4 linked regions of the Homo sapiens genome follow. The protein of the gene in region 3 interacts with the protein of the main gene of each other region in a pairwise test. Each region holds a gene or a part of one and is shown on either strand. Other genes may lie near its edges. The genes, in order: KIAA1328, L3MBTL3, TSTD2 and ZNF438.

The links.
Region 1: the proteins of TSTD2 (region 3) and KIAA1328 interact in binary tests that used the Homo sapiens proteins (3 or more experiments, as listed by UniProt).
Region 2: the proteins of TSTD2 (region 3) and L3MBTL3 interact in binary tests that used the Homo sapiens proteins (3 or more experiments, as listed by UniProt).
Region 4: the proteins of TSTD2 (region 3) and ZNF438 interact in binary tests that used the Homo sapiens proteins (3 or more experiments, as listed by UniProt).

What each region holds. Positions count from the first base shown.
Region 1 is NC_000018.10:37,154,109-37,161,161, reverse strand, and holds part of KIAA1328 (protein hinderin), read right to left. Parts: intron 986-7,053; coding exon of another isoform or gene 963-985; coding exon 781-962; intron 1-780. UniProt on the Homo sapiens protein: Competes with SMC1 for binding to SMC3. May affect the availability of SMC3 to engage in the formation of multimeric protein complexes.
Region 2 is NC_000006.12:130,049,536-130,056,588, forward strand, and holds part of L3MBTL3 (lethal(3)malignant brain tumor-like protein 3), read left to right. Parts: intron 1-115; coding exon of another isoform or gene 116-220; coding exon 221-295; intron 296-1,713; coding exon 1,714-1,873; intron 1,874-3,323; coding exon 3,324-3,456; intron 3,457-5,635; coding exon 5,636-5,720; intron 5,721-7,053. UniProt on the Homo sapiens protein: Is a negative regulator of Notch target genes expression, required for RBPJ-mediated transcriptional repression. It recruits KDM1A to Notch-responsive elements and promotes KDM1A-mediated H3K4me demethylation.
Region 3 is NC_000009.12:97,599,541-97,602,382, reverse strand, and holds the end of TSTD2 (thiosulfate sulfurtransferase/rhodanese-like domain-containing protein 2), read left to right. Parts: 3' UTR 1-2,303; downstream 2,304-2,842. Other genes in the region: TMOD1 (tropomodulin-1), read right to left, coding at 2,685-2,749.
Region 4 is NC_000010.11:30,844,088-30,846,874, forward strand, and holds the end of ZNF438 (zinc finger protein 438), read right to left. Parts: intron 1,487-2,787; coding exon 874-1,486; 3' UTR 545-873; downstream 1-544. UniProt on the Homo sapiens protein: Isoform 1 acts as a transcriptional repressor.

The sequences.
Region 1 (7,053 bases), on a different chromosome or scaffold from region 3:
AATCTGGGTTAATGGTTTTGAGAAGGGAAAAAAGACACTAGGAAAGAGGTGTGAGCAGGAGAGGGCTCAGAGGTCTTTTTGGTCTTTTGTTTCCTGTACATCTTTTCTGTACAATAAAGCTCAGACTTGCTCCATTCTTTTCCAAAGTCGTTCCTTTAAGGATGCCAGGAAAGATTAAGCCAAAAGCCTCTCCAGGAACAACTGGGAAACAAATAAATTTGCTTCACTCAACATTTAACATAGTTACTTATAATTGATTTCTTTAAAGTCTACCACATATAACAGGAAGTATTATTGACACTTAAAAGACTGTTAGGCAAAAAATGCTTTAGACTTGTGAGGTTTTGCTTTAGTCACAATATGGGGAATTGTCCATGACCTCTCCTCCACCCTCCCCATGTTTCCAGTCAATTGAGGATTAACTGTAGTTGTTAGGGTTTATTTTTCCAGGAGAGATTTATGTTCAATATCTTGCCCTCTTTACTCACTTGGAACATTATTTTAGTCTATGACCATACTTACTGCTGACTAATTCTTAACAGTTATTGCTTGCAAAAAGAGGGACAAGTTGGATACAGTTTTTCATTCCAGTATTCTAAGAAAAACACAGACACAATTCACTAATCTAGTAAATGTGTTACCTGTGGCCTTGCAGGCACACTTCAGTGTGTAAACATTTAACTTTTGCTCAGCATTGTAGGAAATCATCTGAAATTCATTGGCTAGCAACTACCTTCCCCTACCAGTTTCTCATTTTGCCACTACAGTTGTTAAACTTACCTCTTTGGGGTCTACATGTATCTTTCTTTTGACATGACCACTGGGCATCATCTTTCATATGCGAATGAAACCCAACTGTCTTCCTCTCCTTCCTATTCTCTCCACTGTTTGGGGGGTCTTGGTGCTTTTTAATAGATGATGATGTTCCAAGCAGCCAGCCATCACAGTTTGACTTCAATAAACTGAAAGAACAACGATGAATGAACTGTTGAAGGCACAGAAGGGAACACAGAGCACATAGATATTTAAATTCAGTATGGGTTGAAATGCAATTCATTAAGAACTCTCTTTATCTTACCTTTTATTGAGGTATAATTTAAATAATTTACTCAACGTCTATTTTGTGTCCTGTCACAACAATTTTGGAAAAGAAATGGCCTTTATTCTCAAAAAGCTTACACTGGGAGTTGGGGAAATAAGATTCAAACTGATGAAACAGCTAATAAAGTCACAGAATATGACTAAGAACCAGGCTATCTATAGAAATAAAAAGTATGCTAAAACAGGACTTGCATATCTAAGATGTTTTCCAAGTACTAAAAATGAACACTAGGGATTAAAATATCACCAATGTGCCTCACACAAACGCGTTTGTGTTTCTAATTTTCAATTGTTATTAGTATTTATTATGTACCCAGAGTACGTAAGGAGTAGTGTAACAGTGCACGTAGAAGAACTAGACTCCATACTTACATAGTTTCATTAAAAGGTCAACAAGACAAATATAGAATAAAAGGCATTTTAATGAAAATGAACACATGTACATATTTTCTTCTCTAATAAACCGTGTTCCCACCATTAGCATATTTCCTCTTATAATATTTTCTTATTTTAGGGAAAAATATTCTAATGATGTGTTATCTCTCACTATTCCACTCTTCCCTCTTCGTGTTTGTTCACAACAAACTCATGACACTTTGGTTTTGTCTTCCCCATGCCCATAAACAATGTGAAAATTAAAGAAAAAGACATGGAAATGCATAGAGGCAGCTACTCAAAAAACAAGATTCTAAAATTAAAACGTTTAAACTCCCCAGAAGCAAAGGGAATCTCTAGACAAGAACAAGCTGAATGGAGTGTTGCCAGGTCTATCACTTACTCCAGGTGGCCTTTGACCAGGATTCAAATCACATAATCTTCTATAAATGTCTCTGGTTTATATCGATCAGAATTTTTAGCAGTGTTTGCTCATATCATAATTTATTAACAAAAACCAAGAAAGTAAATGGCTTTATGTTCAGAATTATATAAAGAAAATAAAATCATTAGTTATATGGCTTTATAAAGTAGGCACAAGAAAATGTATAAAAGTGATACTCTTCTTTTTTTTTTAAATCAGAACACAGAGACCATTTTCCTCTCAGACCCACCAGAAGATGTATAACTTAGGGTTATACAAATTGCACTCACGGAACAGGGAAATACGGAAAATAAAAGTACCTTATTGTGAATGTTATATAAATTTACGTCAACCCAGAGGCCCCAAACCCAGGCAAATCCAGTGACTACATCTCTGCTTGTTCTGTAGAAAAATGAATGTGACCCCAACCATTGGCTTCCCCAAATTTGATTCATTCTCAGCTCAGCCAGACTCCCAATACTGACTGCCTTCTGCTTCTTTACAGCATTTTCACAGAAGCTTTTCTGTACCTTTATTCAAAATTCCACCTTGGTAATCCTCCATCACAACTGGAAACTTGGCTTCTAATTTCCCTAAAATAAAGATGACTATATGAAAAATTTCTTCCTTCATTTGTATTTATTTCCATATTCACCCATCTACTATTCCTCTCTTCATGTCTCAAAAAATTTTACCTTTTATTTGCACTCTTGATACCATCTTGACCCATCCCCTCTGTGACTATGGCCTGTCAATCATCTCTTTTTCTTATAACTCACAAACTCCTCCTCTAAACTGGATTTTTTCCTAGGGCTACAAACAAGAGCAGATCCTCCATTAATACCCAGTGTCAGTGAGCGTGTGGGGACAAGAGCACTTTAATACCTATTGCAGGAACCACAAATGGGTATCACCTTTTTGTGAGTGACTTGTCAACACAAAATGAAAATGCATCCCTCTTTCAACAGTTCTACTTTTATCCCACACCTGAGGCCAGAAATTTGAGATCGGACTGGGCATCACAGCAAGACCCCATCACTAAAGAAAAAAAATTGTTTTAAATTAGCCAGGCATGGTGGCATGTGCCTATAGTTCCAGCTACTTGGGAAGCTGAGGCAGCAGGATAGCTTGAGCCCAGGAGTTTGGGCTTATAGTGAGATATGACCATGCCACTGCACTCCAGCCTGGGAGACAGTGAGACTCTGTTTCCAAAAAAAAAGAAAGAAAGAAAGAAAGAAAAAAAAAGGAATTTCTCCTGCAGAATTACATGAACAACAGCATGAGAATATTTGTTTAAGGATAATCACTGGAGAATTATTTGTAATAGTGAAAAACTGAAAGCAAATATCATTCTATAAGAGAATGAATAAATTATGGTACATATTAATTATAAAGAACACTATTCAGCCATTAAAAAGAATGAGGTAATTCTTTTTTTTTTTTTTTTTTTTTTTGGAGAGGAGTCTCACTCTGTTGCCCGGGCTGGAGTGCAGTGGCGCAGTCTTTGCTCACCACAACCTCCACCTTCCAGGTCAAGTGATTCTCCTGCCTCAGCCTCCCGAGTGCTGGGACTACAGGCACACACCACCATGTCCGGCTAATTTTTGTATTTTTAGTAGAGATGGGGTTTCACTATGTTGGCCAGGCTGGTCTTGAACTCCTGACCTCGTGATCTGCCCACTCGGCCTCCCAAAGTGCTGGGATTACAGGTGTGAGCCACCACACTTGGCTAGGATGAGGTAATTCTTTACACTGATGAGAAGAAACTTCATGACATGCTATTAAAATAAAAGCAATTTGCAATTATAGAGTATATAATGTGATCTCATTTTTATAAAAATAAAAATATACAAAAATATTTTTAAAGTTCTGGATGGATAAATGTCAAACTAGAAGGGAGTAGAAGAAATAGAGGGAAGAGTTTTATATTTTAATTTATATAACTCTGAATGTTTTAATTTCTTCCAATAGGCATGCATTTTATAATTTAAAAACAAACAAAAAACTCTCACCATGTCCCTTCCATTACCATCTCCTCTCTCCTTGTCTGCTGAACGTCTAGAAAACAATAATTTATTCTAACAGACATACCGACTAGAACTTGTTTTTAAAGAACAAATCAAAAGGCCTTTCTTCTTTGAACAGTCTTGCTTGTTACTAGATCACCCTACAGAAATTCAAGAAATTCAAGAAAACATTTTTTCTTGAAATGTTTTCTCCCTTGGTCTTCATAACACATTATCCTGACTGGTTTTCTGGTTTTAGGAGACTTCTTCCTTCCCCTTAGATGCAGACATTGCAAAAGTCTGTCCCTGTCCTCTTCCCTCTTAGTACTTTCTTGGTGATCCTTGCCACACCTCTATATCTGCAAGTACGATTTCTAAACAGATTCTTCTAGTTCACAGTGCTTGCCAAAACTGCTGACCTGATCAAGTATCTGATGAAAAGCTGTAAAGCGATGTCTATTCCTGCCTCCCAAACCAACTCTTGCTAAAGCAATCCAGTATCTTTATCTTGAAACTACTTCCTCCTTCTGTTTCCATTCTCACTTAATGATATCACCATCCTCCCAGTCACTCATAAGAAATCTCAGTTGTCTCAACTTCTGCTCTCCTTATTCCTTTTTAATAAATTTCCTAATCAATCATTCACTTATATATTCATCAGATATTGACTGAAGAACACACTTTATGGGCCTGATATGTACTGTGAGACTGGGCTGGGCAAAATGGAAAACAAACATTTACAGAGGACTTATTTTATGCTAGGTGCTGGGTATACAAACATGAGAAAGCCCTCGTTCCCATTCTTTTTTTTTTTTTTTTTTTTTTTTTTGAGGCGGAGTTTCTCTCTTGTCACCTAGGCTGGAGTGCAATGGCACAATCTCGGCTCACCACAACCTCTGCCTCCCGGGTTCAAGCGGTTCTCCTGCCTCAGCCTCCCGAGTAGCTGGGATTACAGGCATGCAATCCCATGCCTGTAATTTTGTTACATGCCCGGCTAACTTTGTATTTTTTAGTAGAGATGGGGTTTCTCCATGTTGGTGAGGCTGGTCTCGAACTCCCGACCTCAGGTGATCTGCCCGCCTTGGCCTCCCAAAGTCCTGGGATTACAGGTGTGAGCCACCGAGCCCGGCCCAGCCCTGGTTCCTATTCTTAAAGAGATTTTAGTGGGGGAGACAGACGTGGAAACAGAATTTTTAATACCATATGCCAAATGCAGTAATTCAGGAATATACTGGATGTTATGAGAGTGCAAGGGCAAGGCACCTAACTTTATTTGCATAACAGAAGAGAGATTCCTGAAATACTCAAACTTAACCTTGAAAGATAAGGAAAAATGTAAGAATGTTCTAGGTAAAATAAAAAAGTATTAGCAAATATACCAACAAATGAAACTTCAGTTCATATTTTGGGAAAGTTAAATAGCTAGGTATTGTTACAGCATTAAACTTTGGGTGTGTGGTAGGGAGGAACGGAGATGAAGCAGGTAAGACAGGGCAGGTCAGATCATGAAAGGTTGCGTTTTCCATGCTGAGGGGCTTGAACTCTATCTTGTGGCCAAGGTGGAGTCACTGAAAGGCTCTCAGGAGAAAAATGATATGATCCAACCAGAATTTATGAAAAATTACTCTGGCACCATTTAGAGAATGGGCTTCAAGAAACTGGATGAGTTGGAAGGCTGCTGAAACAGCTCTGGTGAGAGATGAAGGTTTGCAATAGAGAAGCGGTAGTAGGAACGGAAAGACATAGTTTAAGAAATATTTAGGATTTAAAAAGGGTAGAACTTGATGTAAGAGAGAGGGAGAGAAAAGTCAAGAATGACTGCCAGAATTTTGGGTTGATAAGCAATACAGAGGAGGATTGGGGAAGGGTGGGAAAAATTAACTGCAGCTTGAGATGCTTATGGAACATCTGAGAAGATATTTCAAGAAAGTAATTTGATCAGTAACTCCATGGCTTTTTGCTATTGGCTAAGTGAGTTTAGAGGTGGTAGAGTTGAGGGAGGCAGAGTTGAGAAAGAATATGCTTCAATTTCAATTTCCTTGGTGTAGGAGGAGATACAGTCATTCTTGTGAGTGAGTAAAGCAGGTATTGAGAAGAGAGGTGAAGGTTTGGAGTATGTATTGAGGGAATTCGAAATAGAAATGAAAAGAAAAAGATTTTCCTGAAATGTTGAGGCCCTAACAGAAATAGAAATCATCCATTTGTAGCAGGGCTCAAGTGCAGAGATTAAAAAGCAGAGAAAGCAGTGTGAGAGCTCAATCTAGGGTTAGGATTTTTACTGGGACAATGCAGCAGACTGGGGGTCAAGGGAAATAAATATATTAATGTAGTATAGGTCAACCATTCGGTCCAGGAAGAAAGTGAGGCAACAGGGACTGAAAAGACTGGCAGAAAAATGAGGGGAAATAAATAATTTAGATATCCCTTTAAGGTAAAGCGAAAATAAAACAGCAACAACACCAGAAATATAAAAACCCTTGGTATGGTGTATGTGATAAACATGAGAATATAAGCTGTAAAGAAAGAGGCTGGGATGGCAGAGTCAATGATTTTTCTGATGAAACCATGGTGGGTGATAGCAAGCTCTGGGTGTCACCATGGATGATGCTGGAGTGAATTGAGGAACGCAGAAATTCTTTAGCTATGGCAATGGATACATCAACCATATGGATATTGGGATCTCACAGAATGATGGTAGGAGTTATGGGGGAGAAAGTGACTTTAAGTGGGACGTCAAGGTCCTAGTGAGATAATGATGGAAAACAAAGGATGGAAAAGGATGGACTGCTGCAGTAAAACTAGACATATATTTAGATTCACATAAATAAAGAGATATGCAAGAAAAATGCTGGCACTCCTCTCTCTGTTGTTTATCAAATGTGACAGAAAGAATGGCCTCTAATAGAAGTGGTGCTCTCAGAAAAGATGCTGATTTTAGGCAGTGATTCACAGCTTGGCAATACATTTAAATAATCTGGGGAATTTTTAATAAGAGCGATGGACTGAGTCTCACCCACTTGTCGAAACTGAATTAATCAGTCTAGGGTGGGACCTGGATATTATTTGCTTCCCTCTCTCACTCTCCTCTCCTTTTAAAAAAGTTCTATAGGTGATTCTAATGTTCAGATAGGATTGAAAATTACTGAG
Region 2 (7,053 bases), on a different chromosome or scaffold from region 3:
ACTGATAGGAGCCAGCATTTATGTTTTAAAATAACTATAAACTGTCTTCTTTGTCCTAATGCCAGATCTGTAGTAGCACAAGGTTAGTTGGAAATTAAGTAAATCCATGTTGTAGCCTACACAGGTGATTTAGCCAAAAGCCTGCCACTTTTTTTCTCATCTACTCCGATGGTTGTAACTAACACCTATATGCTGATGACTCCTAAATCTACATCTCCAGCCCCGACCTCTCCCCCGAGCTCCAGGCCCGTATTTCCACCTGCCTACTGGACATCTCCACCTGGATGTCCCACAGGTACCTCAAACTCCACATGTCTGAAATGCAATTCATTTTCTATTTCTTTCTCCCCTCCCCACAAACCTGCTCTTTCTTCCCTAACCCATATTTCAGTTGACAATAGCACCATCCACCCAGTGGACAAGCAAGAAACACAGGAGTCATCCTGAATTTGTTCTTCCCATCCCCATATCCTGTTACTTATACCTCTTGATTTTTATTTCCTAATATGTCTCAGATCTGGCCTTTTCTATCTATCATCTTTGCCATGGCCTTAATGTAGGCTCTTCTCAACTCTCATCTGAACTATTGCAGATGTCACTCTACTTCTAATTTTACCCCCTTCCAATTGGTCCTGCACCTTGAAGCCAGAGGAACTTAACGTAGATTGCTTATCTGACACTTCACTGATTTCTCATTGCCTTTTTAGCAGAACATACAAAGATCTGGGTGCCTGCACCTACCTGCTCGCCTTGTCTCCTCAGTCTCTGTTTCCTTCTTTGTATGTTGTGTTCTGGCAGTGCCAGCAGCACAGAATTACGTGTAATTTTCCCAACACATCATGTGGTTTCATGCTTTCTTGCCTTTACTCATACTGCTTTTTCTGGCTCAAATGCCATTTCTCTCTTTGTCCAGTTGGTAAATTCCTCTTTGGCCTTCAAAACCCTGTTGAGGCTTTCTATCAGAAAATCCTTCTCTGACCTTACCCCAGGCTGAATGAATCACTTCTTCTGTACTACTTCTGGACCTTGTTTATGCCTCTAGTATTGCATGTATCACATTTTATTATAAATACTGGTTTTCTTGCCTCTCTTTTCTTCTAGACTGTGAGCTCTCTTGGGCAAGGTCTCTACTGTCATTATTAATGTCTAGAATAAATTGGTGCCTAATAACTGCTGGCTGAATGAATGATTAGCCTAACAATTCAGGCAAAAGGAAATGCGAGTTTCTACACAATTTGGATAGCTATGAGTCAGGAAATGTACTACATTGAAAGCGTAATAGAAGAGATGTTGATTTAGCCAATTAAGTAAAACAAAATCATTCATCAAAAGATTATAAATGTGAAATAAAAGAAGATCCTCTGAAATTTTCTGAAAGATACAAATATAGAAGAAGTTTCTATAGATCGATATATGCGTCTTCTGAATTTAGTGACTAGTGAAATTTTCTTCATTTTACTTTGAACTCTGTAGAAAAAGCCTTGGGCAAGCTTTTATCCTTTCTGCAGAATATTTTTTCATTATTTGAATGACTTGAGTGATTTTTACAGAGCCCATACCCCCCGAAAACACTATCATTTGATCATTCATTCATTCAGCAAACACTATTCTTTATTGTGTTGCTAACAAAATTATTAGAAGAAAAAGTTTGATTGTATTTTAGAATGTCTTCTGTCATGGTTGTAATTTGCATTTCTTCTTTTCATCTTCTAGTCTTTTCAGAGAAGACTGGGATGCCTTTCAGGTTGAAGGATCCAGTGAAAGTAGAAGGGCTTCAGTTCTGTGAGAACTGTTGTCAGTATGGCAACGTAGATGAGTGTCTTTCTGGAGGAAACTATTGCAGCCAGAATTGTGCTCGGCACATCAAAGATAAGTAGGTTTTTGCCCCATTCCATCTATAAATTGAGTTTTAGATTCCAAAGTCATGGTGCCTGAGAATATAGAAGTTTTATGCTCTCGGACATTGATCACCTATTGATACCTTTTTCCCAGAGACTTTTCCTTTAGGGCCACATGGGCCCTAACCCCTATATGGGACCTGGTGACGTCTGTCATGCCTGGTCTGAGTTGTATTACTAATATTCTGCCTGCAAAACAGCCTCTGCCTCTGCCTTCAGTCTTCCATTTCCATTCATTTGATTGTCTTCAGCTAAGAGTATTTAGTTTTTTCTGGGCTATATACACATTTCGATGACACTGACATTTATAGAAACATAGTTTTGTTTATATTTTGGGAATTCTTAGGTAACTCGGTTAAAACTCCACCTACGGCATAAAGCTTCCACTGATTCGTAATCAGCTGAATGGAAATGGCCATAGGGAAGAGTGTAGTGAGTTGGGTCACTGATGATCTCAAGGTGTGGACTGAGGATTATGAGACAGAGGCATCAGCTGTAACTGGTAGTGGTGTGTGACCTTCCCATTTGGGGACAGTCTGACAAAGTTCAGCTTATCACCAAGAAGGTGTTTTTCTTGCATATCATTGTATACTACAAAGAAATGACTGGACATTTATATTTTAGTGGCATTTCCCATGTATTTTAATCAGCACAGGCTTGGGAAATGTTTTCTTTTTCTTTTTTTTTTTTTGAGATGAAGTCTTGTTCTGTCGCCAGGCTGGAGTGCAGTGGCGTGATCTTGGCTCACTGCAACCTCCACATTCCCAGGTTCAAGCAATTCACCTGCCTCAGCCTCCCGAGTAGCTGGGACTACAGGCGCACGCCACCACACCCAGCTAGTTTTTTCTATTTTAGTAGAGACGGGGTTTCACCATGTTAGCCAGGATGGTCTCAATATCCTGACCTCATGATCCGCCTGCCTCAGCCTCCCGAAATGCTGGGATTAAAGGTGTGAGCCACTGCGCCCAACTGGAACTGTCTTGTTTTTCTTGGATAACTGATGTTTCACAATGTTACACTTAGCCTTTTTTCAATTGGATTTGTCATTCTTAATAACTGCTAGATCCTTCTTTGACCCTGAAAACAAATATCTCTAAATAATCAATTCTTTTATTAGTATAGATGGTAGATGTGACAGACAAATAACTTGTTAGAACCTATTTCATACATATTGCTGGCCCCCTTTTGAAATTAATATATAAGGTAATTTTCATTTTCTGCCCTGACAGACAGATGTCATATGTAATAGTTGTTTTCAGTGTTCCTGATATATGATATTCTCATGCCTACAGATTTCTCCTGGTAGTTAAAGATTTTTCCTTTGCAGGGTGATTTTTTTTTAATGATTGTTGCATTGATAATCAACAAGTAGATGTTTGATAGGTATTGTCTCTTGTCACTATTTTGGGTTTATAAACACAACAGAGATCAGAAGGAAGAAAGGGACGTAGAAGAAGACAATGAGGAAGAAGATCCTAAGTGTAGTCGGAAGAAAAAACCAAAATTATCTCTGAAAGCTGACACCAAGGAGGATGGAGAAGAGAGAGATGATGAAATGGTGAGTGCCTCTGCCTGACACCAGGAGCACAGGGATGCATCTTTAGTGGGTAGCATCACAGTCACAAGCACTGCTCTGGAGCCCACTGAGTTCAAATGTGGGTTCCAGGACTATCTGTGTTAGTGTCAGTAAGTTACATGGCCTCTGTGTGCCTTGCTGTCCTGATCTCAAAATGGGAATCATAAACAATAGTATCCTTCTCTCAGGGTGAAAAAGTGGGATGTCCTGAAATTTAGTGCTAGGGTGAAAGGGAACATTTAAAAACCTTCAGTCTTGTAGATGAATCTTAAATTCCTCTTGACAACACAATGCCAATCTCATTTCTTTAAATTGCAGACAGATCTCATAAAACTATCTGAGTGGGCTGGGCGTGGTGGCTCATGCCTGTAATCCCAGCACTTTGGGAGGCCGAGGCCGGCAGATCACGAGGTCGGGAGATCGAGACCATCCTGGCTAACCCGGTGAAACCCCTTCCTTACTAAAAATACAAAAAATTAGGTAGGCGTGGTGGCAGGCTCCTGTAGTCCCAGCTACTCGGGAGGCTGAGGCAGGAGAATGGCGTGAACCTGGGAGGTGGAGCTTGCAATGAGCTGAGATTGCACCACTGCACTCCAGCCTGGGCGACAGAGCGAGACTGTGTCTCAAAAAAAAAAAACAAAAAAAACTATCTGAGTGGTTAAAAAATGGCACACAAATATCAGGTATATTTGGGGAAAAGCCATTCAAAATGTGTGAATTAAAACATAAATATCATATTCCTAAAGGCATCTATTAATGGTTTTATAGGAAAAGGGAACTTTGAGATCTGGAAGTGTTTCCGTTGAGATCGGTATTGTACAACTGTTACTTGGGAGTCACTGTTCTAGGAGCTGAGAATACAGGGATGCATAAGACAAATAGATGACATAGAGTCTCTCCTGGCAGAGACACTGCATTCTTGTTTAGGGGGTAGTTAATCTACAAACAAAATGAACAGGAGAAATGTCACCTAGTGATAAGTGCTACGTTGAGAATTAAAATAGGGCATTAGGATTGGCTGACTACTTTAGGTTGGGTTGTCAGGGAGCCCTCTCAAAGACGATGGCATGAACAGTGTGATCTGATGAATGAAGAGGAGTCAGCTATGTGAAGTTGAGAGTGAGGCGTCTTCTGGGTAGTAGAACTTCCAGAGGAAAGTCCTTAAGGTAAGAACTTGCACAGCATGTTTTGTTCGAGGAAATAAAAGGAAGTCTGGTCACTGGTTTAGGAGAGGGTGGAGTAAGATGAAGTTGAAGAGGTACCTGTGGTCCAGGGCATGTAGGGTTTTATGGTAAACAAGAGTCGAGGGTGTTCATTGTATTCTGAGTGTCAGGGGAAGCCTCTGGAAAGTTAAGACAAGGGAATGCTTTGATATGATGTATGTTTTAAATGACCACTGTAGCCCTGAGTGGAATCAGGGAAACCAGTTAGGAGTTTATTGCAGTAGACAACGTAAGAAGGCTGAAGATGATGGAAGTCCGTGGATTTGGGAATCAATGTTAGAGGTAGGGTTGTCAGAGTGTGTGAGGAAAAGAGAAAAATCAGGGATAAAACTTTGGCTTTAACAATTGGCTGGATAATCCTGTCTCTTACTGAGAATGGGAAGATGAGGGTGGAGTGCAGAACACAGAGTCCTTTGGCCATGATGGGTTTGAAATGCTGATTAACCATCCAGGTGAAGATCCCAAGTAGGCATTTGTCTACAGCCACATGGAGTAAGGAAGAGGAAGCTGAGGGTGTGGATTGGGAGTATCTGGCCTATGTAAGATGACCTTGAAAACCCAGGGAAAGGGACTAGAAAGAGTAGAGAAGGGAACTGGATTGGAGGAGACATCAGCAGAGGAGACAAAGAGGAGCCAGTAAGGCGTGAGGAAAATCAGAGCAGAGCGGTCACGCAGCTGAGAGCAGAAAGTGTTTCAAGGAGCGGGGAGCGGTGTCCATGCCCTTCCAACCGGTAACACGTGGATACAGTCTTATTTTGTAATAACCTCAGGCCAAAAGCAACAGTTTTCAGATGAACTATATTCTTACTTTCCTTAAAAGTTACAAAGTAAAACTGAAGAAAAGAACAACAGAAAAAGTGCTTTCTGATAGCTCTCTAACTATTCACTGGTGCCAATTTCTTGAACTTTAAAGTCATAATTTTCCTTTCTTTTTGTAGGAGAACAAACAAGATGTAAGAATCCTGAGGGGTTCGCAGAGAGCACGGAGGAAAAGACGAGGGGATTCGGCTGTACTAAAGCAGGGTGAGCTGATGAAAATAAAGTCTTACTTGTAACTTTATGAAATTGGAAATGGTTCACACAGGTGGAAATTTTAGTCATGCCACTTAAAGTATTACTTCAGGATTTTCTTTGATTCAGTTTGGTCAATAAAGATTTGAGATTTTGAGGATAAGGAAAAAAATGAAAATTCTTAACTTTCAAGTGGTTTCAGGGTAAGCATGAGAACTGTCTTCCTCCCTCCCTCTCTCCCTCCCTCTCTCCCTCCCTCTCTCCCTGCCTCTCTCCCTGCCTCTCTCCCTCTCTCCCTCCCTGTCTCCCTCTCTCCCTCCCTTTCTCCCTCCCTCCTTCTCTCCCTCTCTCCCTCCCTCTCTGTCTCCGCCTCTCCCTGTCTCCCTCCCTCCCTCCCTCCCTCTCTCTCCCTCCCTCCCTCTCTCTCCCTCCCTCCATCCCTCTCTCCCTCTCTCTTTCTCTCTCTCTCTCTCTCTGTTCCCCTCATCAAGTAGGTGTTTCCTGCCTCTGCTTCTCTATAAAACCTCTGTTCTTGTTCATTTCCCACAGTTTTAGGTTTTTAATGTTCCCTCTCAAAACATGAGCTCCTGGCGTGGAACCTGTTTTTTGCCTTCTCTTTTCATCTCTTCTGTCTTCTCTTCCCTTCCCTTCCCTTCTGTCCCCTCCCCTTCCCTTCCCTCCCCTCCCCTCCCCTCTCTTTTCGAGATGGATTCTCACTCTGTCACCCAGGCTGAAGTATGGTGGCGCAATCTCGGCTCACAGCAGCCTCCACCTCCTGGGTTCACGTGATTCCCCTGCCACAGCCTCCCAAGTAGCTGGGATTACAGGTGTGCACCACCAAGCCTGGCTAATTTTTGTATTTTTAGTAGAGATGGGGTTTCATCATATTGGCCAGGCTGGTCTCGAACTCCTGACCTCAAGCCATCTGCCCGTGTCTACCTCCCAAAGTGCTGGGATTACAGGCATGAGCCACTGTGCCTGGCCCTTTTTTTTGTTTGTTTCATTGTTCCTCAGGCAGCATTTTATTTCCAGGAGGAAACCGGCCCTGAAGCCCTTCCCTTTAGTATTTGTCTTGATGTACTTTTCTGCTTATTCTGTGTGGACCTTGGGTCACTTCCATAGAGGCCCTGGGGGATGTCCCCCACAAGGCTCTATCCCCTTGCCTGCCTCAGCTTGCAGCCTGCACAGTCAGTCATACTGTCCCGACAAACCAGGGCCATGAACCAGGTGCTTCTCCTCAGTGCCGGGGTGCATTCTAGCCTTGTTCTGTTAATTCCTCAAAAAACTGGAAATAGCCCCACCTGCCCTAGGCACACAGCTTAACTTTTGTGTCTTTTCAGAGATG
Region 3 (2,842 bases):
AGAGAAATCGGGAACTTCAGTTCTGGCCGCTGCCACCGTGGCAGCCGTCTACACTTCACAGCGGGAGGGGAGGAGTCACGTTGTCTACCACTTACCTGAGACATTCTGATTTGGATGATGCTAGAGCACAGAAAATAGGTGAGCTGCATGGGATCCCAAAGCTGCTGAGGGATAGAGCCTGAGCCTGGTGGCCACAGCATATGCCCTTTCTGTTCCATGCAGCTGGGGCTGTTAGTAGTCATTGCCCTTGTCAGCAGACCTTCTACCCTGGTGGCAAACACATGAAAGCTGTGGCCCTGGGAGTGGCCTCCTAAAACAAGCCACTTAGGTCATCTGCCATCTACCCTTAACCTCTGTCTCTCGCCTGAGGGGAATCTGCAAGCTGTGCATTGGGCTTACCTCCTGCTTTTGTAGAAATAACCATCCTTTGGTATACATGGAGGATAGTTCCAGAACGCCTGAGTATACAAAAACCCAATGCATACTCAAGTCCCACAGTGGGCCCTACAGAACCCACGTATGTGATAAATCAGCCCTCCATGTACGCAGGTTTCGCCCCCTGCCAATACTGTATTTTCAACCTGTATGGTTGAAAAAAATCCATATATAAGTGCAGCCATGCAGTTCAAACCCATATTGTTCAAGGGTCAACTGTATAGTTTATTGAACAGCCACACCCATTCCTTTACACATGATCTATGGCAGAGTTGAATAGTTGCAACAGACACTATGTGGCCTGCAAAATCGGAAATTTTTACTGTCTGGCCTTTTACAGAAAAGTTTGCCAGCCCCTGATCTAGACCAGCAGCTCATCTGATAGAGGCAGAGGTGGCCTTAAAGATGTGGCCTTCTTCATTTTCTGTTGGTTTGGTTTCGTTTCTATGAGAGATTTCCTCTGATAGCTCTGCTTTCCCCAGCACTTACTCTCTGAGCTTTTAAATGTTCTCTCTGGGAGCTTCATATAAGCTCGGTGACATTTGAGCCACAGTTTTTAGATCAGCACCTGGAATACATGACACATTCTTACTGAGGTCATCCAGCACTGCCATGGTGGCTGCCCAGTCTTCTGGCCAGTGTGCCAGGCACATGTCCCTGTCACACAGGTTCCAAGAAACACATACGCAGCCATGCATAGACCAACAGATTTAATATTATATTGCAGTTTTCAGCGATGCAGAATGCAGCTGCAATTGTGTTTTAAGGAGAAGCCAAATGGGGATGGTTGTCCCTGCAACATGGTGCCACTCCTGGGCCATGTGCAGCCTCAGTGGACACTCTTCCATAGCGCTGAGGCCCTGGCCCCGCCTCCAGTTACCCTGTACTGCCCACTGCCTTACAGTTCAGTGCGCAGGCCTTCACCTTTTCATCACCAGCCTCTCTGCTCAGTGCTCTGGAGTTCTTGACCTTGTCCTTTATCATGAGATTTGCTGAAATCACTAATGAAAATAACTCCCAAAAGCAACAAACAAAAATATTAGTTTAACTGGCACTGTGGTATATTAAAAGGCACAAGGGCATTGTGGCTTAACACTTTTGCTGGATCCCAAGAGACGCACATGATGTTAAAAAGAGATCTGGCAGCAGTACTAATACTACATTTCAGTGTAATCATCTTGGGGTGGTTTGGCCAGGATTTCCCAATTCCTTGATATCTGGAGTTTCTTCACCATTGTCCGGCATCCTGCGGAGGCTTAATATACAGGCGTAAGGTCAGCAGCAATTTGTCTAATAAGTGATGAGATCAGTAGCTGAAGTCTCTAAGCTGGGCCATTACTAAATACCATAGCCATGTTGATCTGGAAATTTATCCCTCTAGTGTCTTACCTCACATAAGCCATTTGCCCACTGTGCAATATAGAAAGGTGTTTTCAAAAGTATTTGGCCGTAGATTTTCACATCCATCATAAGGTTGGCATTCAATAAGGAAAAAGTTCTAACTCCAGTATTAAATTGTACATAAATCCCAAATGTTCTTAAAGAACACTCAGGGACATGTTTGTTGCCTGGGATTGGTAATGAAAGGTTGGTTTTTGAAACTTGAAATTTCACCATTGGTTTTTTTCCTATCATTTCTGCATATCCAGCAAAAGGAATCTCATGTTGACTCCTGGCAGAGTTCAGTGGCTTCAGTCTGTCTATCTGTTCTGAGGGGAAAATTGTGTTCTGGATCCAGTAATCAATTTGGCAACTTTAATCGAGGTTTTCAAAATTCCAAGGAGGGTTAATAAAGAATGATAATCAGTTTTATTTGCTAATAGCTAAGACAAATTTGTAATAAAGTGTTTTATAATACTTCAAAAGCATGTGGAAGAGTGTGCCGTTTCTGTGTCACACATTTTAAATGCACTTGAAACACCACACAGCAAGGCCATTGAAACTGGGCTCCTGGGGCTAAGTCGCTGCTGCTGGAACATCATCTTCAGTAAGATCTGCTGGTTTGGGGGCTTCTAGTTTTTAAATAATAACCAGATTCAACTTCTGTGACTAAAGAAAAACTTCACATTAACGGTATTTTATAAAATTTTCAACTACAACCACTAGTCAACCTAAAACCTTAGTGCATAAAGAACTGAACCACAAAAGGGTTTCATGCTGCCAGCATTTTGCCTTCTGGTTTCCCCTGCAGAGCACAGGTCATCAATAGAACACATCCAGTTCAAAGGCATGGACTCCACCGCCACACACTAGACACCACTCCGGCACTTGGGAATGATGGGCCCAGTCAGGTCCGCAAGCCTCCTCTTCCTCACTGGAAAGGAATGGAGATAAGATATAAGGCACTTTTCCCTGTAGACCAGGGGCCAGCACTGTTGCTGAGAAAGCACTGTGAAACCTCGCACTA
Region 4 (2,787 bases), on a different chromosome or scaffold from region 3:
CTTGAAAAGTACAGTTCCATCTAAAATTGATCAGCTAGCGACAACCCTCTGAAGTTACTTGGGAGTGAGGGAAAGCAGTTGAGACCCCTACACATCTGGACTGAACTATCTAGTTCATTTTCCAGGTTGTAAATTTTCTGGTCCCAAAGACTACTTGAAAATAACTTTTTACCAAGCAAGTAGACTTTTTATTAGCTGAAGTACTAAATTTTTTAAAAAATTATTTTGATATGGAACACTACAGCTATAAGACTTGCCAACAACTAATCTTCAATGAAATGTGCATTTAAGAAAATAGCAAAATTACAAGAAACAAAAATCTGAGTCCTGAAAACATGGATTTTAAATTATTGTAGATGACAATCTTATTAAAATACTGCTCTATATCATATTCAAATAAACCAGAGAATTTAATAAATATCAGCATTTACCATCTAACTTGATACTATGGTTGAGATTAAAAGGGTTTTGCTGCCTGGACATTTTTGACATTTGTCAATCTATATAAGCAGAAAACATCTGAACAAAAGGAAGGACACATGCATGTTTTCACTGAGAGCTGTATTTGAAGAACAGCCTATATTCTGCTAAATTTCAATCTTCAAATTTTGATCTTTTTATTTATTCTGAAAGTCTAAGATATTAAGAATCAGTACGTATTTTAAAATAAGACTGCATATAGTTAGAAAAATATGCTTCGAGAGCTTATATTTTATTTCGTTAAGAAAATAAAACCATGTACAAAAATCATTTCTGTTCACTCACACCAATCCTGTTGTTTGATCTTTGTGACTAAGCACCACCATAAAGCACGAAGCTCTGAAGGAAGGTGGCGGCAGAGCTCTCTCCTTAACCCCAGGCTGCCTTGGGGTCTCATTTCTCAGCTTCACTGGAAAGTTCGATCACTCCCTGGTTGGAGACCGTATTTAAAATAGCCCACAGTTTGGAAGGGTCCTCACAGTTATGCTGGTGCTTCCAGTGGTGGAGGAGGTCCTCTTTCCGTCCCAGCATCTCTGCACAAAGCAGGCAGTTAAAGCCTGAATGGGACCACAAGAGAAACGTGTGGAGGCCAGGACACTCAGGGCCCTGGCAGGTTTCCCTTGGCTTGTTGGTTCCTGACTGGGGTCCTTCATTTTCCATGAGCATTTCCACGCCATTCTGATGAAGGTGGAGCTGCCTTTTCAGTCTTGGACATGCATGTGATTCCTCGGAGGAGGAATGAACCTTCTCCGGCTTCCCTCTCTCAGGATGCCTTTTCCAGTCGGGGCTAGCGTGCTGCACCAACTCTTCCTGAGTCCCCTTGCTTCCTGGGAAGGTCCCTTCTTGTAGCCTGCCCTCAATTTCCTCTCCATGAACATCAAGTAAATGAAATTTTATTTCCGCAAAAGACTGAGCAGTAATCTGACAACGACCACATTTGATTTGTAATTTGACTTCGTCTGCCTGGTTTAGAAGGAAGTCTTCTTCCAGGTTGGACTTGTTTTCCCTGAAAAGGCCAATAATAATGAAGATAAGATTTCATGGAAAAATGCAATTGGAATCTTTCCTCTCAGCTGTCAGCCTTCAGGGATCTAAAACATAACACTGACGAGAAAGACAAGGGCTGGGGTAAACAGAGAGCACCTGGGAAGACCTTCTGCAAGGACCGTGGTGAATACTAATTGTCACTCCTGCTTGTGGCCACACATTTCTCCAGCTACCAGGGTTCATTTAGTCAACAGTCCTCTTCACGCATCTGTCCCAGGCGAGCTAACTCGTCTTTGGTTACCACAGGGACAGGAGCAATCACGTGGAAGAGTCACGTAAGAGCGCGTGAAGGGCACGGGAACACCCTCGGTTCTGTTGAAGGTAACGGTCCCACCCTACCCACTGTGGCTCTCCCTAACCTTGAGCACCAATACCTTCTATTCAATTTTGGCTCACTCTGTCATGTTCAGTAAAAATAAAGGGTGCCTACCCTATTTCTTCCTTGCTTTTCTAGAGTTTCTCCTTTTTCTTAGACATTTCTGTCCCCTTTAAGACCTCTGTGCCTTTCACTAATGAACCATGAAACCTCACTTCTTCCTTCTTTTCCTAGAGTTAGATTTTGATTTTTAGGTACAATGTCCAAACTACATTTGGCAAGAGCGTCTGTTTTCATTTGGGGAAGAGGAGAAGATTTCATATTCAGAAAGGAGCCAGTGAGCACCCAGCTGAAGGTGCAGCCGGGACTTGTGGGGCTAGTCCTGAGAGTGTCAGGTTCATTTGTGCAGGGTTGGCCAGGGCCACTGCACCACCTGCACCTTGCCTGCTGTTGCTGCTGGGAAAACATGGAGAGGAGGTGGGCAGTCCCTGAAACCTGCCGCCATGAGAGCCACTGCGATGGGGCCAGGCTGAGTCACCTGCTGGCAGGGGAAAACAGCACACTAGGGCATGCAGGAGTGGGTAGAGAGGGGCCCTGAGGCAGAGCTGGGCCAGGGGTGGTGCCACACTTCATGGAGCCAGTGGGAGCTGGGGACAAGCACGAGCCCTGCCCTTTCCAAGTTGACGGTGTGGGAGCTTACCAGGCACAACTGCCTGCAGCTGCCCAAGCTGCAGCTGTGACCCAGGCACCCCTGTGCTCTTGGAAGCTGGGAGCAGGCAGGAGCGCTCCTGCCCTCCCAGGCATCACTGTAGCTACCCTGCTGTGGCTGCAGATCCAGGCATCTCTGCACTCTCAGGGGTCCAGGAAGGCCCCTTTCCCCCCACGGGCTCAAGAAGCACCTGCTCCTGCTGCCTGGCTTCTCCCTGCTGTCAGCACCTGCTCCA